Linked DNA regions of Homo sapiens. The protein of the gene in region 2 interacts with the protein of the main gene of each other region in a pairwise test. Each region holds a gene or a part of one and is shown on either strand. Other genes may lie near its edges. The genes, in order: NBPF19 and CD164.

The links.
Region 1: the proteins of CD164 (region 2) and NBPF19 interact in a two-hybrid assay, tested with the Homo sapiens proteins (one large-scale study listed by BioGRID).

The regions. Positions count from the first base shown.
Region 1 is NC_000001.11:149,473,503-149,477,939, reverse strand, and holds the start of NBPF19 (NBPF family member NBPF19), read right to left. Parts: upstream 2,896-4,437; 5' UTR 2,145-2,895; intron 2,043-2,144; 5' UTR 2,008-2,042; coding exon 1,833-2,007; intron 1-1,832.
Region 2 is NC_000006.12:109,379,627-109,384,132, forward strand, and holds the start of CD164 (sialomucin core protein 24 isoform 1 precursor), read right to left. Parts: upstream 2,842-4,506; 5' UTR 2,753-2,841; coding exon 2,578-2,752; intron 2,114-2,577; exon of another isoform or gene 1,951-2,113; coding exon of another isoform or gene 1,878-1,950; intron 37-1,877; coding exon 1-36.

The DNA.
Region 1 (4,437 bases), on a different chromosome or scaffold from region 2:
AAAAGACAGACACGCCTGCCTCAGTGGAAGGCTGGACATGCTGCTGTGGTCACTGCCTACAGGGCAGGAGCCAGGTCCATCCCAAGGACAAAACTCTCCCCAGTACCAGGGTCTAGACAGGGATTTCCACATCTTTATTCTTCAGTCTCCTGACTTTCTGGCATCTGATCCTCCAAAATTTAAAGACGAAGAAAGAGAAACTCAAGGGCGCATCAAGGAAGTTGACAAGATGATTCAACCACAACGAAGTGGAGTCAGAACTCACAGCCCCTGAGGTCTGACTCTGAATGCGGGGCCACTTTCCCAAGTCTTGCAGCCTCTCCTCTAAAACACTGCACTGGGGCATGAAGTAGTGATTTCTTGTACAGTCGGGAAGGCCCCTAGGACTATGGGACTGATGGTTTCCCTTTTACTGGGTATTTCAAGGACAAATATGTCAAGGACTTTAAAAATATTTCATTTTTAAATCAATATTCAGATATGGTTTTAAGAATCATATCTGAAGCATAAAGTGTGAGATATAAGACAATAAGGCCATGAAGGAAATATGCCCAAATACTTTATTAGTATGAGAGGCAGCATTAAGATTTAGATTAGTTGTGTTAATTTAGAAACAGCATTAGTTTGTGTTAATTTAGAAACATCAGAATGAAGAACTAATAGATAGTGTTTCCACTGTGCCAATTAATGTTCAAGGAGATTGACAGGAAATACCTCATGTAATTCATTGCAGCAATTTACAGAGGTAGGTATTATTGTAGTACCCTCTGAACAGATGAGGAAACTGAGGGACAGACAAGACAAGCAACTTGGATGGAGCCCAGGAGACAGGCTGAGGGTCCCTGCTTTGCACACTGCACTGCTGCTTCCACACATTCTCCGGTGTGATCTTTCCTCTTTAGGAACAAGAGCCTGTGCACCAGGAAGCAGGACTTCACTCTCACCAAGGTACTCTCTGCTTTTTATTTTTATTTTTGATTTATTTATCTTTTTGTTTGTTTGTTTTTTGACGAGTCTTGCCCCGTCACCCATGCTGGAGTGCAATAGTGCAATCTTGGCTCACTGCAACATCTGCCTGCTGGGTTCAAAGGATTCTTCTGCCTCAGCCTCCCGATTAGTGGTGATTACAGTTGCCCGCCACGATGCCCATCTACTTTTTGTATTTTTAGTGGAGATGGGGTTTCTCCATGTTGCCCAGGCTAGTCTCAAACTGCTGACCTCGTGCTCTGCCCGCCTCAGCCTCCCAAAGTGCTGAGATTATAGGAGTGAGCCACGTTGCACGGCCCCTACTCCCTGCTCTTGATGCTGTCACTTATAGATAGCACAGGTTCTATTAGGAGCAGACTCCCCTTGAAGCCCCTCAGAGCAGGTACTGGCTACTATCACCAAGTTCCCCTCAGAGTCACTAGAACAGAGCTTTGCCTGTTGGGCCTCAACAGAAACTTGAACTGAATAAAAGTTCACTAGTCCTAGACATTTAGAACAACAGACTAGATGTTATTTGTCTGCAGGATCTTATATGGTACAGAGAGGATTCTTAAAAACATGATTGAGCCCCTTGGAGAAAACAGGTCATTCTGTGCCTGTGTTAGAAATCAATAACTGTGAGTTTAACTCTAGTTCCACCCCCATCTGATTGCAAACATGGAAAGTTGCTAAATACTTTGGCACCTCTGTCTTCCAACTTTAACAAAATGTTAAAATACCCATTTCTGTTTTCCTAGAAGTACAGGAAGGATGAAATTATTTTTGATGGAGAGAGCATTTAGTGTCTCAGAGAGAAGACAGGATATCATTCATCACTTTCATGATGGTGAGCCTATAGATCTTACTGTATTTCTTCTGTCGGTTGGCCAGGAAGCCGGCCAGTTGAGTTAGAAAACATTTCTCTTTGAGGTTTCTGAACTGCTGTTTCTTCTCTGCCAGCTGGGGGCGCAATGTCTCGTTGATTTCTAGAATGTTCATCTCTGCCTTCTCACTGGACCAAGGGCCGGCTGATACCACCATGCTGACGTTTGTGGCAGAAGAGGTGGAGTCAGGGACTGGGGAGAAGAAACCCAAACATATGATGGGTTAAAAACTGGTGAAATCAAATCGGTTTAATCAGGACTGAGGGATGTCAGTAACTGAAATTCTTAACTTACTGTTGTGAAAAATGTGATCACTCCCCACAGCACTTTAGGATCCTTCACCACAAAAACAAGGTTCGAGGTGCCTCAACTCAGAGCTGAAAGCACTGCCAGTAGCTCAGACTCTGATAAGAGTGAGGCAGAATGTGGCCAGCGTGCCAGGTAACCGTCTGCAGTTGCAATAACAGAATTAGAAGGTGGGGGTGTCATGGAATCTTAGGAGCTCTGCATTCCAATTGCCCAGGCTTTGCTGAAACACAGGCACCCTACTTTCACCTGAGGGTCACCACCAATGGGGATCATTCCTTCAGCATTCACTCTCAGTATTCGTGTACCCTTGTGACAATGCCACAGACCCATGTCTTTCCCAATACATCTAAGCATATTCCTCACTGTTTATCTCTTGTCTGTACAACATCATCAAGGCAGAAACAGTTTCCCAACAGGTTATATTTTCTTAATGGTAGTCATGAAGTCACCCCACCTGCTCTCAGTTAAAACAGAGCTTAAGGCTTTTCCACAGGTGTAAGATATCAAACTTTTAGCCTGCCCTGATATCCTCTGGGTCTTCTGCAGTTTTTTCTGTATCCACTAGAAAGTGAATGAATAATTCATTTTTTTAAAATATTTTCTTTCCTGTCTCAGTATTCTTGCTGCTGCATCCCATTGTTAGATTGATTTCCTCTTTCTTACTGGGGCACCTTCTTGGGTTTTCATTACATTCTAGACCAGTTTGACATCCCTACGTCCAAAGCTCTTCCTCTATGTGGGTTGATTTGTTTTTTAATGTCACTGAGCACTACATTTTATACTTGTCACTTATAGATGTCATTCTAGTGCCACAAGACCTCTTTTCAAGGTATCAAGTGATCAAAGTCATTTATATAGAGGTCTCCTGAAAACATGTGTGACCATCTATCTTGGGAAGTTTTGTAAACCTGATGCTATTTTGTTGTTTCCATTTTGTTTTCCCATATACTGAAAAGAACAGGGCCACGAGCAGTTCTTATGGAATATGGTTTGATATATATTTTGTTGAGATGACCTAACACCATTGATTTTGGGTTGCATTCCACTAACAGAACATGGCAAGATCAAGGTTATGGTCAGGGTTGGTTGGCGATCCTCAGTGTTGCTGTGCAGTAGAAGGTGAGTTTGAGGTGAGAGGAACAAGTAGGAAAGAGTGATCCCCTGAACCACCTCTTCGCTTTCTCAGCTTTCATCCCCACCTAGGTTTTGTGAGCCTGGAACTTGAGAGACTGTTCTGTAGCCCAGGTCTCCTAAGATTGGCTGCTGGACTTGCCTGAGTTGAGGGTGCAGTGGGTTGACCCTGGGCTGCCCAGCATTCATGTGGAAGTGAAGGAAGGAGGACTGGTTAATCCCATTTGAAAGCATCCCTCTCTGCAGCCCGCACCATCTTCCAGTGACACTGTAAGGATACTGCTTTGAGATGTATCAAAGGCTTTAAGTCAATGTATTTTCTAGGGTCTGGGAGACCTGACATTCTGTGTCAGAATGAAAATCTGTCAAGTTTCTAAATGAAAAAACTGCAGGTTCACAAAGTGTCATGGGTTACTTGAGGTCACAAAGGGATGAGTTTTCAGCACTGCCAATAAAAGCAATCACAATAATTATTCAGTAATTATTCATAGGATCCATACAATCCAGTAAATATTCACATATTTAGTAATTATTCATTGACCAATTCGTACAAGGCATTTTGCTCAAAACTGTGTTTATATTTGGACATTGTATCTTCATCATAATCCTTAAGGTAATGCTATTATCTATAAGTAACAGATAAGAAACCTGAAGATGAGGGACAGCTAATCACGTATTTGGCCATATTTCCATTTTTTGGTTTTTGTGATGCTGGAAGAATGACCAGAATGGGTCACGGGAAGAGTATTCATTCCTGTATTATTTTCCAGGACAGAGGTGTGCCCTTCTAGAGTACTGGGACCAAAATTCAGAAGTGTCTGAAACCTTGCTTTAACAGTATGGGAAATAACCTCTATCACCTGGAATTTCCCTGGAACTTTGGAATATACAAGAGAAGTATGAGACGTGGGTCTTCCCTTGGCTGTGTTTAATTCACTCTTCTATGGAATACCAATGATTCTCACTAAGACTTTTGCCTTTTTATAACCACAATGTATGTCTTATGGAGAAGATTGTACACTTTGCTCTATTTAGAAAGAATAAATATGAGCAATAGTTTTAGGTTTTATGCCCTGGACTTCATATTTTTCTGATTTCTGTTTTGAGATTAAATTCTCATGTAAATAGAAAAATACTTATTATTTCT
Region 2 (4,506 bases):
AACAGGAAACGCAGCTGTTTCGACCTTCACAGGTTTCTGGGGAGTTGGGGGGAGAGATGCATGAAATCAATGATTTTATTAGTATCTTATTTGAATCTGTATTACTTATCTTTTTGAACAATAAGCATTACATACAGCATCAAAATTACTAATTCAGATAAATGATAAAACTTTATACTGGTTTACTAAGAAATTCCAATCATTACAAAGCTGTAAGTAAACGCATTAGAAAAACAAGCTAGTGGTCACTCTCAGTACAGTGCCTGATGGTATCTGTCTAACCAATCCTTTTTCACAGGACAACTATTGGAAGACACCCACAGCCACTAAGGATTTAGGCATTTCAAAGCATCCTTAATACATAAAAATATCGAGAAAAAGGCTTTGATATAATACCAACACTACACATAGGAAAACCACTACCCCCAAACATCAGATAAAACCCTGAGATTTTTAGTAGTAACAGTAGTAGTTTAACAGGTTGAACCCAAGCACTGATGATGCCCATTCTGCTGCAAACAAAGATAATTTCCCAGGGATTCTCGATTCATAAATGATCCACTCTCGACAGGATCCTCCACAACTGGAGACAACATCTAAAAGCCCATATTCAAGTGCATACAATTCAGGTTAACAAGGTATTTGTCAATAGTTCATCCTAGGCCAAACAATCCAGAAACAAGTACTCATCACCATAATTCAATTTCTGGAGAAGAACGGACTATAAAATTGGGCTCTATTTTCCAGTGAGAAAAAGCAGCAAAATAAAAGAAAAAAAAGAATTGGGCTCCATTCATTTTCCTAGAAACTAGATGCCTCCAAACATTCTCGTTTGCTTTGCTCCTGCCTAAAAAATAGTTCTGCAGAGGCACTGCTTTCAATACTTCATCATTAGTACTTATTAAAGACTGGGACATGTACGGTGGGGTGGGGAAGGGTTCATAAAGTAAAAATAAATTTTCTGAAGTTTGTATAGATAAAACATGCTGTTTAAAAACCTTTGTGCTTGACGGGTGTAGCAAAGTGAAATGTCTGAAATGTTCTTTACAATGAACTAAACTTGCTACCTTTCAGACCACACTACATCCACTTATGATTTCCAGAAAATACATACCTCCTTTGCACGCACTTCAATTACACAAAGACAAATTAATTTGATACTTCCAACCTTCTCTTACACACACACTACAATTCTGAAAGGAAACTGTCAAATTAAGACTGAGACAAACATATTCTGCTCTATCATCTTAAAATAGTGCGGTTAGAATTCCCAGTATTATACTGCAATTTACTTCCCTCGTTTTGAAATGTTACCATTACATCTTCCTTAAACTAAAAACAAAACATTAAGTTTACTATATACTTTATTAAACTTTTATAAAATACTAAAACTAGAGGAGAATTTGTAGAATATGAATGCCGTGATAAAAATCATTACACTTCGGCATTCTTCGGTCAAGAAGCCAATGTTAACTACGTAAACATTACTCCTTAACTAATGTTAACTAGAATAACCAATCATACGAGACTGCAGGTTTTAAACCTCTAGTGTTTCTCCCGCTTATTACCTCAAACTTATCTTCCTTCTCTCTTTTGTGTTGTCACGGTATATGGCAATTTCTGCTTTAAAATGTATGTATGCCTTAACCAGCCCTATGCGACTGCACATAACAAAAGACACGCTCCTGATCGGGTTTTAGAAAACCCACAGACCTGGGCACAAACCCCCGTTCCACGACCTACTAAACATACGCTATCTGAGCACAGGACATAGTTAAGAAAATTTTAAAAACAATTGAAAAAAGAATAAACATACAATGTCAGGAGAGTTTACTCATCTCCGTCTCTGCATCTACCTCCTAGGTTTCACTACCTACCTTCCAGTTTAGCCTTAGGATACGTACGCAAAACACCCGGTACATACATGGGTACTTTTCTTCCTTTTCGCATACTTTGAAGTGTGAAGTTTTCACTAACTACGTGCTCAAACGTCAGCTACATTCTATTCCTATCTGCAAAACCAATGTAATTAAATCTCAAGCGACCTTCTCAGACTCAAGTCTGAGACACGAACGAGCATTACCGTCTTTAAGTTTCTCTTTCCCGGACTTCCGGAGAAGGCTACCTCCGGAGAGAGGCGCCGGGAGGGTGAACAACCAGTGGCAGGGAGAGGCAGCTCGGCCCCACCGCCAACCTCAGAGGCGCGACGCCCGGCCCCATCCTCAACCCCACCGCTGCCCCCGCGGAAGGAAGCCACGTCCCCATTTCCGACCCCAAGTGAGGCTAGGAATTACGATGCACTTTTAAAAGGCACCTCGACTTGCAACACTTCGAGGGGGGCCCCAGCCCCGCAGCCACTGGGAACCGCGCGTCCGCTTCCCCCCAGCGCGCTCCCCACCCGGCCCGGCCACGAGTGGACTCCAGGCTGGCCGCCATGTTGCCGGAGTCGCCGCCGCACCCCGAGCGCGGCCCGCCCGCCCGACCGTGGCCCGAACCCGGGCCCCGCCCGCACGGCGAGGAGGCAGTGCGGCTCGGCTGGGCAGGGGAGGGCGGGAAGCCCACAGGGCCCGCGCCCACCTGGTGCCGGAGTGGTGACCAGCGGGAGGGACGTCACCGGCGCCGAGGTTACGTTGGAGATGGGCGCTAAAGTCGTCACGTTCGGGTGCTGGGTCGTGTTCTTGTCCGCGGACAGCACGCAGAGCACGCCCAGGCAGGTGGCGGCCCAAAGCAGTGAGCGGGAGAGCCGCGACATCGTGTCCTCAGCGCTGGCGTTCGGGAGAAAGCTAAGGCTCGCAACGCTCAGTCAACCCCTCAATCCCCTGCGGCGCCGCCTCCGAGACTACGCTCCCCCGCGGGAGCGCGCAGGGGTCACGTGAGAGGCCCCTGTTTTCGGCGTGCGGGGGCGAAGAGGAGGGAGGTGGGGCTCGGACGATACCAACGGGAATCCTACGGGGGGAAGCAGGGGAGTCGGGAGGAAGCCGAAGGAACCTGGCCCTCAAAGCGACTGTGCCACAGCCAAGAAAACTGGGAGCTTCTGCAAATCGTTCTTCTTGCCCTCAGATTACCAGACACGACGCAGCTGGACTTGTCTCATGCCTGCGATAGGGACGGCCCCCACCCTGACTTGCATGGAACAGTCGACATAATGTGGCCTACTGCTTCCACCTGAGCGCCCCGCCAGGCTGTAATTCCGCGGGCCCACGTGACCTCCGGGGCCGCGCCTTCCGGACGCAACTCCACTGGGGCGGAAGTTGGTTTTGTGCGGCTCTCAAGAACTAAGTTTGTGCTGTGCTGCGGGATCCCCAGGGAGCTTCCTTATATCTTCGGCAGGACCCCTTCTTTTTTTCTTGAAGATTGATTTTGCTAGAAGTTATCCTGTGATGGGACTCCCTAGGGGAATGGAGGCACCACGTGGTTAAGGAGTTTGTGCGTTGCCGCCCACATAGTGTGGGCAGCTGAGGCGCCGCCCGGATCAGAGCCGCAGGGCGTCTACTCTGTCACTTTCCCAACCTGACTTTTCCGGATTGCTATTTCAGACGGCGGTTGCAGCAGCCGACCTGTCTCAACTCCACCACTGTAGTCAGAGAATCAAAAGCGGTCTGAGTTGCGAGGTCATTGGGGAGGCCCCCACCCCCACATTACCAGTGAGGAAACTGAGACTTAAAAAAGTGACCTGACCTGGACACGGGATTGCCTGACATCAGAGCTGGATTCTTAAGTTCCTGTTAGTGTTAAGGCGCTGCTCAGACTTTTAGTAAAGGTGAGCGCCATCTACTGCCAAGTCTCACAAAATATTCGCAAAATTTGATACGGTTATCACATGGTAAAAATTAGACTTTAAAAGTTGTATTTAATGCTGTGTTTTCAGCTGTTGTACACTTATGTAATTTTAATTATGCAAAGTTATCCTAATAATATAGGAATATTAATTGCTTTCGTGAGGTCTGTCTTGATGTGCCACGATGACTTTTTTGATGTGCCAAAAAAGATGACTACATAGTGCTTTTACCTTTTTGCTCAAATAGAAAGATTTTATTTCCCCTTGGGATCTTTTCAGTGTCGTCCTTCTGTACCCTCAGGACTATGAACATTTGTTCCAATGACTACGCTAGTTGGAGTAGTGTTGCTTGGATGTAAACAAAAAGCTGATAGTTTTGACTGATCCAGCCCAGAAGCATGAGAATGCTGTCAGGGAAGTGAGCTCCCACCATAAGCCCTTCAGAGAAGTGTCTGCTCTTCTCTCAGGAGGCCTCTCTCTATATTTAACACTTGACTATCTGGCACCCAGACCAAATGAAAGCGCAAGGCAACTTTAATTTTTTTTTAAGGTTAAGAATGTAAATAGGGGCCGGACGCGGTGGCTCACGCCTGTAATGCCAGCACTTTGGGAGGCCAAGGCGGGTGGATCACCTGAGGTCCGGAGTTTGAGACCAGCTTGGCCAACATGGTGTAAACCCCGTCTCTCCTAAAAATACAAAAATTAGCCGGGCATGGTGGCACGTGCCT